Regions from separate parts of the Homo sapiens genome. Here region 2 is linked to region 1. A link means that fine-mapping ties the variant in region 1 to the expression of a gene that starts in the linked region. Tissue or cell type: visceral fat. Region 1 holds a variant in brackets; the other region holds the start of a gene. All regions are shown on one strand. Distances are from middle to middle.

Region 1 (5,000 bases):
TTGATTCTTCTCTCTTTTCTTATTAGTCTAGCTAACAATCTACCTATTTTTTATTAATTTTTTAAAAAAACCCACTCCTGGATTCGTTGACTTTTTTTTTTTTTTAACGGTTTTTCGTGTCTCTGTCTCCTTCAGTTCCACTGTGATCTTGGTTGTTTCTTGTCTTCTGCTAGCTTTGGGATTTGTTTGCTCTTGGTTGTCTACTTCTTTTAGTTGATGTTAGAATGTCAATTTGGGATCTTTCTGGCTTTTTGATGTGAGCATTTAGTGCTATAAATTTCCCTTTTAACACTGCTTTAGCTGTATCCCAGAGATTCCAGTATGTTATCTCTTTGTTCTCATTAGTTTCAAAGAACTTCTTTATTTCTGCCTTAATTTCGTTATTTACCCAGGAGTCATTCAGGAACAGGTTGTTCAGTTTCAGTTGTGTGGTTTTGAGTGAGTTTCTTAACCTTGAGTTATAATTTAGTTGTGTTGTGGTCTGAGAGACTGTTATGATTTCAGTTCTTTTGCATTTGCTGAGGGGTGACACTTTTAAGATTTCTATATGCTGCCATTATAATGCCAAATAAGCATGTTATTTAGTATTTCTTGCTTTTGTTCTTGACTTCGAAACCATAAATAAAAATAATAATATGCCATATTTACTACAATAAACTAATGTAAGTCTTGAGTAATTTTGTAGTTAAACTTATTTAATTAGCAAATTAAACTGAGAGTTTGAGTGTACTCTTCTAAAAAATTACTATTATGTGTCTGAAATGAAACTTGGTCCTTAATTATGAGTACTTTGGTAGAATAATGCCCCCTTGGAATTTGCCATCCATCCCTCTATTCTTAGCATCCCTTACTTGATATATAGTAGATGCTCATCATATGTTTGTTGAATGTATGAACACAGGGTATTTAAGAACACCTGGATCAAATGTTGTATAATCATCTCATATTTTATATAGAATAAGTGTCTTTCTGGAAAATTAGTCAGAAAGCAAATTTTATACACACACACACACACACACACACACACACACATTTTTAAAGATATGGGGTCTTGCTATGCTGCTCAGGCTGGGCTTGAACTCCTGAGCTCAAGCAGTCCTCCCACCTCAGCCTCCCAAGTAGCTAAGACTATAGGCATGTACCTCTGTGTCCAGTTGCACATAATATTTTGATACCGATTTCCATTGTGAATTCTATGCACTTTTTTTTTTTTTTTTTTTTTTTTTTTGAGATGGGGTCTCATTCTGTCACCCAGGCTGGAGTGTAGTGTCATGATCATGGCTCACTGCAGCCTTGACCTCTCTGGGTTCAGGTGATCCTCCCACCTCAGCCTCCTGAGTAACTGGTGTCCACAGGTGCATGCCGCCATGCCAGTCTAAATTTTTATTTTTTTTTACTTTTTGTAGAGACAGGGTTTTGCCATGTTGCCCAGTTTGGTCTCGAACTCCTGAGCTCAAGCAATCCTCTTGCCTCAGCCTCCCAGAGTGCTGGGATACAGGCATAAGCTACTGCACCAAGCCTTTTTTTTTTAAGGGAATAATCTACTGTATATTTCTATGTTCTTATAGAAACATTTCTCTAAATATTCAACTATATGGATATAGTCAAAAACTTGTGAAAAGGAATGGAGATTACCTGTTGTATATAACAGGCATTGTACTTCCTGCCTAGCAGAAGCACTTTTCTAGCCTTAAGATTTTGGAATTGTTGATTTTAGGGATTTTGTCATCTTTTTGGAATTTCTGTTATGTCTTGATGTTCTGTCTTGTGACATTTAGGATTTTGACTTTAAGATTTTTGACTACTTGTAGATGATTGATTCCAAAGGCCCATGCATGTGTACATTTTGCTTAGCATGAGTGAAAATCCATCTCCTTTGGAAATGACCTGCAGGAATATGTAGCTCAGCTAGTAAATGAATCCAGCAGGCAGCTCAGTTTCATTGGGACTTTGTTCTTTATTATCACTGGGTAAACACTTTATGGGAGAAATTTTATGTTGGAGTAGTATTCATGAATTGGATGCCTTCATCTCAGATGTCAGGAGGTAACTCTCTTTGTAACATTCAGAACTTTGTTCTTTTCCTTTTATCTAGATATATAGAGTAGAGTAGAATAAACAGGAACAGGACAAGAACAGGATTATAGCTACAGTGTATTATCATGTGTCTGTAGGAGTCCTGCTAGCTAACTTTAGTTTTTTTTAATCCTGAGAACTCTTTTAGGCTAGGGGAAAAATAGGTGGGTGGGGAGCTAACATTTTTATGAATGTCTCTGCTGTATGCCAGGAACTGTGCTAGATTCATTGTACTTATTATTTCCTGTAATACCCAGAGCAAGTGTATGAGGTAGGAATTATCCCCATTTTGCAGATAAAATTGAGGCCCAGAGGAGTTAAGTACTCGCCCAAGTACCACTTATAAGTACCAGAATTGCCATTGAAACCCAGGTCTGTGTGATGCTAAAGTCTGTGCGCTTTCCGTCTTACCACTTTCTTGTCACTGCTTCCAGTCACTCATCCGTTGTTGAGGGAGTGATCACTGGCCCTGTGCTAGGCATTTGAGCCATAAAGATGATGATCTTGTGACCCTCCCACTCTAGTGGAGGTATGTAAAACCCCAAAAGCTCTCTAATGTACTAATTGGTTTTATTTAAAATTCTCTGTATAGAATTTATAAGAGAGAATATCTCTAGGAGTAATTTTCAAAGTATTACGATGCCCATTTGAGAACTCTGTCACTGTAAGTTAAAGTTTGCTTTTTTAACAACTTCATTTAGTAGGCAGGTTTCTCTGTTGAAAAATGTGGATGTCCTCCATAAACCATAATTGCATATATGTAGCATAAATATTGTTTTTTTATTGGATTTGTTGCAGAAATAAGGGCCTCTTTTGTTTAAATGGACTTGCTTTTGAACTGTGAAAATTTAAT[T/C]GTGATAGTTTATTGGTTCAGCTCTGGAGAAGCTGAGGCAAAGCTATTTTGCTCCAGCCAGAGCTATTTATATACCATCACTGAGAGCTCCTTTTTATATTATTGGTGTTATTGTGTACTAAAAAAAGGAATGTTAGAAGAAAACTTAGAATTTTTTTCATTCTATGCCCTTATTCACCACAATGATATTTTTAGAGGTTATTTCATCTAGCTCTATCTCTTCAGAAAAGGCTTTATCTTTTTCACAGTAGTGGCAGACAAGAACTCAGCTTGAAGCCATTCCTTCTTAAGCTTTCTTTTTTGAAGGGTGAAAGGATCAGAGAGAGTGGAGCTCTGTGTGTGAATTGAGCCTCTTTGCCCTTATCCCCTTCCTGATCAACACATTTGCTTCATTGAGGGGAGAAATAACCATGAATTTAACCCCTTTTAAAAAAGAGGTGAAAATGTAAGACTGTATCTTTTAGTTTGTCTATGCAGAAAGAAAGTCTATGGTCTTAGAAGTTTATCCTCACTTCTGTTTTGCTTCTGGAGAAGATCATTATTCTGTTTAGCTTTCCTTTTAGAAAAGTGCTTTGCTGAACAGGGAAGGCAGGTAATCATTTATTGTTGCAAATATCTGCTGAATTGGATAAGAAGAATAACAGCACTATGGCTGCTCAGTGGCTGGAATTTGTGAGCTAAGAACTGGGGGACAAACTAAGTTTTAAAAGAACATCATACACTTCAGTGTCCTTATAGCAGAGCTAAGTTTGAAAACACTACTAGATTTGCAGCCCTGTAAGTGGAGTAGTTGAATCTCTGCAGAAGCATCTGATTTCAAGCCTACATATGGGGCCTTAACAACTTGAATGCAGATGGGTGTAGCCTCTGAGGCAAGATTCGCCACTTGCTCCTGGATCCTTTTAGGTGGCCACAGTCATAGACAGCAGCATGTCATATTTAGTACTGTTTTCCTCCAATATGGACATCTGTCTGCTTCAATATTTACCTACTCTCGGTCATCCATCCATCCATTCATGTTATCTTTGAAATAGTAGACTACTGGGTATGTTTCTTTTGGTTTATTACCTGCCTTCTGAAACATATTGTAATAATATGTGAGGTTCCATTTTTATTTTATCCTATAACATGAAACAGTATGTTTCCAAAGGTGTGATTACATAAGACCGTTTCACATAAAATTTAGTGAATTATGCACATCTTTGGATTCTGGGAGAGACGGGCTAGATGTCGGATTTCATGACTACAAATCAATTTGCAAAAGGCCATATGAAAGATAATGCTTAATATAATTCAACTTCTCTTCCATTAACATCTTGAACTGTGGTGTAAAGTTTTGTATTTTTATTCTAGAAATATAGCTGACATTAGCATTCAGGTATACAGTTCAGTTTATCTCTAGTGAAAAGTCTCTTAAAATTAAGTTAAATACAGCACAGAGAACATGGAAAATCAATAATATTTCATTTCTTTTAAGTAAGATCTTTCTATATACATTTGCTTGGGTTGCTTATAAATTTCTTTCTTTACAGAAGTATTTTATAATAAATGCCAGTTATAGATTTAACTGTAGCAAAAAATAGTACAGGTTCGGTAGTAGCTTTAATATATCAGGTAAAAAACTGCTTAGCTAAGTATTAGTGTAGGATAGTGGTATAGTCTCCTAAACGATATTTTTAAAATGTAGTAATATTAATAGGAGAGCATTTAGGAGCTTAACATGTGGAATATTATAGAATTCAGCCTATTGTGCTTTAAGATATTTAAAACATATTTGCTTATTGGTTTACTTATAACCCTTTACACAGAGTAAACATATTGTAAATATTTGTTGATGGATGTGAACTTGCTTCAAATTTTTTTAAATCTAATTACTCCCGTACTAGTGATACGAGATTTAATTACTTTAGTGTTATCCTCGTAGTCTAAAAATACTATCCTAATATTACCTACAGTTCAAAAGGAATTCTAGTGGCATTAGCAAGTGATTGATAGAACTGGTAAAAACTAATTTGTTAAAGTATTAGAAGTTGAACATTGGGCAAATTCACTTTTTAATAGCCATGTATGC
Region 2 (7,852 bases), 29 kb before region 1:
AATTTCTACTTTTGAATTAGCCTTCTAGTTTCGGATTTAACTCCATTGACAAAATAAGACGAAAGGGCTGCTGTTACACTGGCACCGTTGTTAACTCCTGAATATTGTCAGGAGGTATATTACAGTCTATCCTGAAAATCTCCTATAGTTTCATCTTGTCTGTGTTTGCATTATTGAATTATGGTACAACAGATTTTTATAGAAAACGTTTGGGATATTGCTTTTAGGAGGCTGTGTTCTACTTTTCAGGGCTTTTTTTTTTTCAGACGCTTAAGTTTATTGGGGAAAAAGCGATCCTTGTAGATCCCTTCTCATGTCAGTCCAATCAGCTTTTCTTTAAATCCAAGATTTAACACCTGAGGATCTGGCCAATATATGTATACATTGATATATTTAGGTTAGGTAACCCTGAATCATATGCATTCAAATGAATCCTAAATTCTTCTATAAATAGTTGCTGGTCTTGTTTGGAAGTAGAGAAATTCTTGATTATTGCTCTTAATTCATCTTGGGTGCAAAGTTTAAATTCTGCAGTTGCCTGCATACCTGGCTTTTGAGGGGAGAGGGATCTTTAGAAGCAATTGACATTTTAGAGTTTTAGGAGAGTTGTTGGGAAAATGCAGGAGTCCTGGACAAGAGGAAGAGAAGGGGGGAGTTGATGGAAGGGAAGAAAGAGAGCTATCAGAAGGCTAAGGGATAAGAGGGACATCTGGATATAGGGAGCCAACGCAAAGGGGAAGATTTACTAGGAAATGAGTCTAGTTTGTTGTTGCTTAAGATGTCAAATTGCTTGTTAGCTTTAGCCAAAGCATCTTTTAGTGGAATAATTCTTGAATCAGAATTTCCTTTGGAGGCCTCTGTGTACCACTAAAAAACTGTTGCCCATCAAACCTAAGAAATCTTAATTCCCTTTCTTTTCTTGCCCATCAAATAAAAAATTTTGTCAAGTCAAGTGTTTCCCAGAGTGGCCACTGAAGGCCCAACTCCTCATTGCTGAAGTTATGCCACTTAGAGAGATAGGCACAAGCATTAGGATTGTAATGAGAGTATGTATAAGAAGCAGAAGTTTTTCCTGGTGGAGAGGATTTAGACTTAGAGCTGGCTACGGTGTTGAAAGTTATGCTCGTGCTTATCCTGTCTCAGTCCCCAGCCTGATTTTTGCCCCTTTTGAACACAGACCGAACAATCTGTGCCCCCTGGCAGGCAGAATATCAGAATGACCTCTTTCTTTGGATCAAAAGCAAGCCCTCAGAACAAAAAATCAAGATGAAGGGAGAACTTCATCCAGTTTTATTGGTGACCCACAACAAAATTTGTCCAAACGGATGTAGTCTGGTGAGAACTGCAAACTCATCGGTCTGTGAAACTGGCTTAAACAACAGGGTTGTAGGGCCCATGGCCATGTTCTACCCTATGATTCTCCTTCTTATGGAAAATAACACTTTTAGATAGCACAATACAAAACAGAAGTACAAAGGACAGCACAAAGGATGAAAAGGAATTGCCTGATTCCACTAAGGATGCAAATAGGAACCAGTAACAAAATCTGAGTACCAAACTTCAAATGAATAGCTTAGGAACTCAAGGCAAACAGGGAGGAGTTCCAAGCCAGCACTGACTTACCATGTTGGCATGGACTTGACAAGCCATAAGCAACAAGGCACGAGGAGCCCCTGTGGGCACCACAACTGGCCAAAGGCTGAGGTCCACCGCCATGGACAGCACAGACCATGTCTCAGTGAAGTCTCCAGGAAAACTGGAAATTCAGAGCGTGCTAGAGAAGGGAGTCAGTCACCATCATTTACATTTGTCAAGAGTCTCAAAGGCAGGCAGGGGAGTGGGAAAGCTTTATAGTGAAAGATTCAGGTACAGGGAAGAATTCAGGTGTGCCGATTGGAGGTGTTGGCAAGGAGAAGCTAGAGGTTGGCTAACTAGAAACAGGGCATCTTATGTAATTTAAGGAGGATATTTAGCTTTCTCTGGTTGGTCTTAAGTTAGAAGCGAGTAATAAAAGAGGGAAGCTGGCAGTCATTGCCCAAGTCTTAACCATTCTTGGCTGATTGCTGCAGAGGTGGTGGTTTGGAAGTCTAGTTGCTAGAGAGGTTGTGGGTGAGAGTTCTGTTATCACATATGATCTGGCCATTGTCCATTTGTATAGTCAGTCTATCTAGGGGAAGATGTCATTGAGCAATTACCTCTCATTTAATCATCATAACTGCCTCTTCCATATCCCCATTTTACAGATAAAGCAAAGCTCAGGAAGTTTGAGTAATGTATTTAAGGTTATACAACTAGTGACCCTAGCAGAATTTAAACCTGTGTGTTCTGGACCTATTTTAAATGATGCTTCATCTTGTAAAGACCATGAGGTTATTCTGATGTTGCCCTATTAAAAATAGTAATTACATACTATTATTAAAAATAGTAATTACATACTATTTTAAAATAGTAGTTACAAACTACTATTTTAAAATAATAATTACATACTATTTTTAATAGATAGCATCATTTAAAATAGGTCCAGAACACACAGGTTTAAATTCTGCTAGTGTCACTCATTGTATAACCTTAAATACATTACTCAAACTTCTTGAGCTTTGCTTTCCTGATCTGTAAAATGGGCATATGGATAAATACTTGTTGGGTGAGTGAATGGATGAAAGTAATTTTAGAATACTTCTCTTGAAATTGCTTCCAAAGCTGGTATCTTTTGAATACCTTTAATGAATGCATATCTTGACAATGACTAACTTTTTGGAAACAGACAAACATTTTTCTGAAGTAAGGTGGTGAATAAGGTAAGAGAAGAAGCTGGCTCAAAAACCTGGCGTGTCCATTCAGTAATGACATTAATTTTGGGATTTTTGCACATTTTGCATGTGATTGACAAAGCAGCTTTGAAGGCTTTTCCAAAGAAGAAGTTGCAAAAATAGTTGCATTTTGAGAATAGGAACACAACTTTCCAAAAGTTTGAAAAATACTCATTTTAGAAAGTATGCTAAATTCTTGTTGTTTTGTGGTTTACCTTTCTGTTTAAAGTAGTTAAATGCTCTATGTCATTCAACAAATATTTATCAAACAGCTATTATGTATTTAGTGCTGTGCTTTGAACACAGATATTGGTATAGCCCTTGTGAACCAGGAGTTCACAGTCTAGTTGAGACAGAAAATTAACAATTGAAATGCAATTCAACAAATACCATAAATAGACTGATTTATATTAATAGCTGGATGCCATGGGAACATGCAGTAGAAACAGTGATGAGCTGGTACATGTTGAACAACTGACTTCTAGGGGAGTGGGTTGGAGTGTAAGGGCCTGATTAGCGGTGTTTACTGATTTCCATGGTGTAAATGCTCCCACCATGGCCAACGTGACATCATCAAAAGAGGAGTTGGAAGATGTGCAGTAGTATAACATTACATTGAATTTCCACCATATAGATAAAATGCATGTAAATAACCTGAAGAGCATAGATAATAGTAAAATGTAAAATAATTAGGAAGTGACAAATTTTGAGTATTTTTACTTTTGCTTGTAATATAATTTTTGAGTGGCTGTATTTGAAAACTAGCTCACAAAATTACTGAACATTTAACAATCAGCTCTTGCAAGTGGGTGTGACTCAGTGCAAATGGACAAACCACCAGGTGAAAGCAATGTCAGGAATTACTGTAGGCTCACATAAGATGAAGATTGTAAGGAAACTGGAGGCAGGGATCTCCAGCAGTGAACCTCTAAGTTGTTGAACTGTTACAGCACTGCCAGGTTCCTATGCCGGCTGTGCAGAAACAGACCAGTATTCCGACAGCAGGCTTGCAGCAGAGAAAGTTTTAATAATCACAAGTTACAAGCCAGGAAACAGGAAGAGTTCTCAAGCTTCAATCCATTTCATCAAGGGGTTCTAGGCAAAGTTTTTTAAGGGGATTTGTGGAGGGTGAGGGGCTGGAAAATTTGGGGTTATCGATTCGTTGGGGTAAGGGAGATGAAATCATTAGGATGTGACAATTGCATTCCTCCATGAATCAGCTTTTTATTGGGCCTTCCAGACAAGTTGGCGTCCTTAGTTTTGTTGGTATGCGGGACCTAAAGAAGCAATGCAAACAGAAAGCTTATCTTCTCATAATGTCTTAGATTTTATCTTCAGAGCAGAAAAAGAATGAAGAGTCTTGTGACAAGGGCCACATTCTCCTGGGGTAGTAAGTAGCAACCAGCTACAAGAAAGTCGGCCACACTGCAAGCTGGCTTAATAACAGCAGCTGTAAGCCTAGTTGGATTTTTTTCCCCTCCTTAATCAATTTTACAAAATGTTCTTGGGGATAGTTTCAGAATGGTCAAACTAATTCATTAATTCAATATCAACTTTTTTTTTAGGCCCTACTTTATTCTGGGCACTGTTTTAGGTGCCCGGGGGAAGGGGGCACCGCAGCAAAAACCGAGGTCCTGCCGTTAGGTTAGAGAGTTTACATTCATGGGTATGGGTGTGTGTGTGTGTGTGTATAAACAAACGTCTGGCATGTCACGTGGTGAGTAGTAAGTGCTATGGCTAAACAGTAGTGTCAAGGGGAAAATGAGTGGGGCACTGCTATTTCCTATGGGGTTGTGAGGCAGTAATAAGTGTGGAAATGTATCAAAGTAAAGATCGAAGGTTCTGGCATCTGACAGTTTGAATAAGGCGGAAGCACAGACCCTGCACAGATCTCAACCATCCAACAGGACTGAAACACAGAACTTGGAAAAACCCACGTACCTGCTTCTTACTCTGCTCGCCCGGTCTGCACAAGTGCAAAATCCTTTCCTGAAGTTTGTGTCAGGAACACCAGGGTTTAACTAGACGAATCAGCCGCAGCGGGGCGGGGCTAATTTCAGTCCTTCCTTTGCCAAAAGTCAGCGAAAAGCGCGGACTCCCTCGCGCATGCTCAAATACGCCAACTTCCTCCTGGAGCGCCATCTGAGAAGGTCTGCGCATGTGCACGAACGAGAAGTGTTTTTTTTGTTTTGTTTTGTTTTGTTTTGTTTTTTGTCCCAAGGCGCTGCCGTACCGTCCAGGCGGCGAGTTGCATTCTGGTTCCGTCGTGTGTCTGGCGTGTGGAGCTAGTGCTCCCGCTTATTCGCCACTGTCGCCACCGCTGTCATGAACCGCGAGAGCTTCGCGGCGGGAGAGCGGCTGGTGTCGCCGGCTTACGTGCGGCAGGGCTGTGAGGCCCGCCGCTCGCATGAGCACCTCATACGGCTGCTTCTGGAGAAGGTACCGAGCTGTCGGTCCCCTCCCCAGCCGCCGCGACCCCGGGGCTCTGGCTCCGCCGGGCGTCCCCGCTGGTGCTGCCTCACCGGCAGCTCTTCGCTGCTTGAGACTAGTCCCAAGTCTGTCTCAGCTTGGCTTGCCCTAGCTGACCGACTGCGGTCTGTGCCTTCTCAGCCTTGCCAAAGCCAGTGAAAGCCAAATGGTGTTGTTAGGAGGGGGTGTTGGGGTCGGGGTTTTGAGTCCCGCTGTTTCTAACTTCGGGATGCGGAAGTGAGGGAAAGTCCCAGTGTACTTTTTTATTCGCGGAAAGGGCAAAGTTCGCACCTCCATCTTTCACCAACCCTCAACGACTCAGAACACATAATGGTGTTTGTAGACTGTATGCTAACTCGAACCACGAGCTTTCCGCGGAACTTCACAGGTCTCCCTCCTGCCAGCGTTCATGTATTTTAATTTCATTAAAAGTTTTGTTGTGTTTTGTTTTTTTGAAACAGAGTCTCGCTCTTTCGCCCAGGCTGGAATGCAGTGTGACGATCTCGGCTCACTGCAGCCTCCGCCTCCCGGGTTCACGCCATTCGCCTGCCTCAGCCTCCCGAGTAGCTGGGACTACAGGCGCCCGCCACCACACCCGGTTAATGTTTGTATTTTTAGTAGAGATGGGGTTTCACCATGTTGGCCAGGCTGATCTCAAACTCCTGACTTCAAGTGATCGGCCATTCTTGGCCTTCCAAAGTGCTCGGATTACAGGCGTGAGTGAGCTACAGCGCGTGGCCAAAATTTCACTGAAGTTTGACAACTACCGCCCTTCTCCACGTCCCACCGCCCCAGTCGTAACGCCCTGGTTTGAAGCATCTTCACTGGGGATGTGTTGTATTGGTTTTCAGTTAGTTTCACTTACGGAAATTTAAATATCTCAGTAAACCTCATTGTATGCATTTATCATCACTTCTCGAAATCTGTAAATAATTGTAATCAAATGTACAAACGTTTTGCCTCTTTGCGGTCTCTATACAGTGGTGAATTTATGCTTGAATTTTAGAAAACAAGCAGCGTGGCAAAATACACGTTAAAAAGAAAAACTGTATTCCTGTAGTATTCTAGAGAACGGTAGTTTTATTAAATATAATCATAAGTTTTTTTTTTTTTTTAAGGGCAAGTGTCCAGAGAATGGCTGGGATGAAAGTACACTTGAACTCTTTTTACATGAACTTGCAATCATGGACAGCAACAATTTCTTAGGCAATTGTGGTGTGGGAGAAAGGGAAGGGAGAGTGGCATCCGCACTGGTTGCTCGTCGTCATTACAGGTATCTTTTTTTAAGTAGTACAGGAGATACATCGTTTATTTATTTTTGGTTCAAAATAATGGCAGCAGTATTTATCTTATTAGATTATCAAATGTCAGTTTGTAAACCACTTCTTCCCTGCTCTAATGGATATGTAAGCCAAATGCAACAGGGAGATGGAAACAATTTTATCTCAGCAGGTGCTTTTCAAAGACAATAGAGTAAAAACTAAGTGGGGGTTACCCTGTCAGGTTCTGGGTGACTAACACAGGCTATACGTTTTCTTAGGAACGGTTACCCTAATAAACATATCTGGTTGTAAGAGTTCAAAATCCATTAAGGTTGTTTATAGCTTTCCATATTTCTTTTCTAACATTTGTAGTGTTTTTTTTTTTTGAATGATTTATAGTTATCAACTTTAAATTTTGTTTTAAACTGTGTTTAAACTGAATCTCATTTTATAAATACCTCTGTTGCAATAGATACAGGGAAAGGTGTATTAGATTATTAAGTGACCTTTTTCTTTTGCATTATTGCAGAAAGCTTTTCATCAATTCTGATAACGATTTAATTGGTAGTTAATTGGTAGTTAATATGATCACTCATTGCTCTGTCCACTAACCTTTCTGTGAAGTGTAAACTCTTTTAAATGAAACTCCTGTCTTCCATGCTTTTACATTATAATGAAAATTTCCTGGGCATCGTAGAATTTGTATTTCAGTAAAAACCACTGCAGTCAAAACTGATGATAATGCCTAACTTGGATGAAAATTTCAGTTAACAGTTTGCTGATAACATGGTTGATAATATATGTAAGAAATGTTTTGTACATGAGATTTCAGTGGTGAGGAAGTACAGCACTAGTATTCTTCGATAATCCTCCTATACCGAATTTCTGATATATTTGACTGTCAATTAGAAATTACTCAAATTACGAAAGGGTTTTTTATTTTAAAGAGTATTGAGAGGTATCTTTAAACAATGTATAATATTGTCTAATTTAAAATGAGATTTGCACACTGATTTTCTAGGAGCATATAGTTCTTTTAAAATTAAGGCAATATTTGAACCATCATTGGAACTTAGCCCAGTGTGGAATTAGGGGAAAAGTAAAGAAAAAAGATAATTTGGCCGGGCACGGTGGCTCACGCCGGTAATCTCAGCACTTTGGGAGGCCAAGGCGGGCGGATCACGAGGTCAGGAGATCCACACCATCCTGGCTAACATGGTGAAACCCCGTCTCTACTAAAAATACAAAAAAATTAGCCGGGCGTGGTGGCGGGCGCCTGTAGTCCCAGCTACACGGGAGGCTGAGGCAGGA

Evidence for each region. PIP is the estimated chance that this variant, and not a neighbour inherited with it, causes the effect.
Region 2: it holds the start of SEPSECS-DT, and the variant in region 1 is fine-mapped to the expression of SEPSECS-DT in visceral fat (GTEx, PIP above 0.99).

Annotation. Positions count from the first base shown.
Region 1 is chr4:25,130,353-25,135,352 of GRCh38, reverse strand. All of the region lies in intron 8 of SEPSECS (Sep (O-phosphoserine) tRNA:Sec (selenocysteine) tRNA synthase), which reads left to right. Among named protein-coding and RNA genes, the nearest start is that of SEPSECS, 28 kb to the left of the region's middle. RefSeq lists enhancers at 2,747-3,273, 3,274-3,800. The variant T/C (reference allele first, on the strand shown) is at 2,930.
Region 2 is chr4:25,157,653-25,165,504 of GRCh38, reverse strand. It overlaps SEPSECS-DT (SEPSECS divergent transcript), which reads right to left and starts at 4,833. Exons shown (of 2, transcript NR_037934.1): 1 at 4,752-4,833. It overlaps SEPSECS (Sep (O-phosphoserine) tRNA:Sec (selenocysteine) tRNA synthase), which reads left to right and starts at 5,056. Exons shown (of 11, transcript NM_016955.4): 1 at 5,056-5,249; 2 at 6,398-6,552. The coding sequence starts at 5,136. RefSeq lists an enhancer at 4,793-5,092 and a silencer at 5,203-5,372.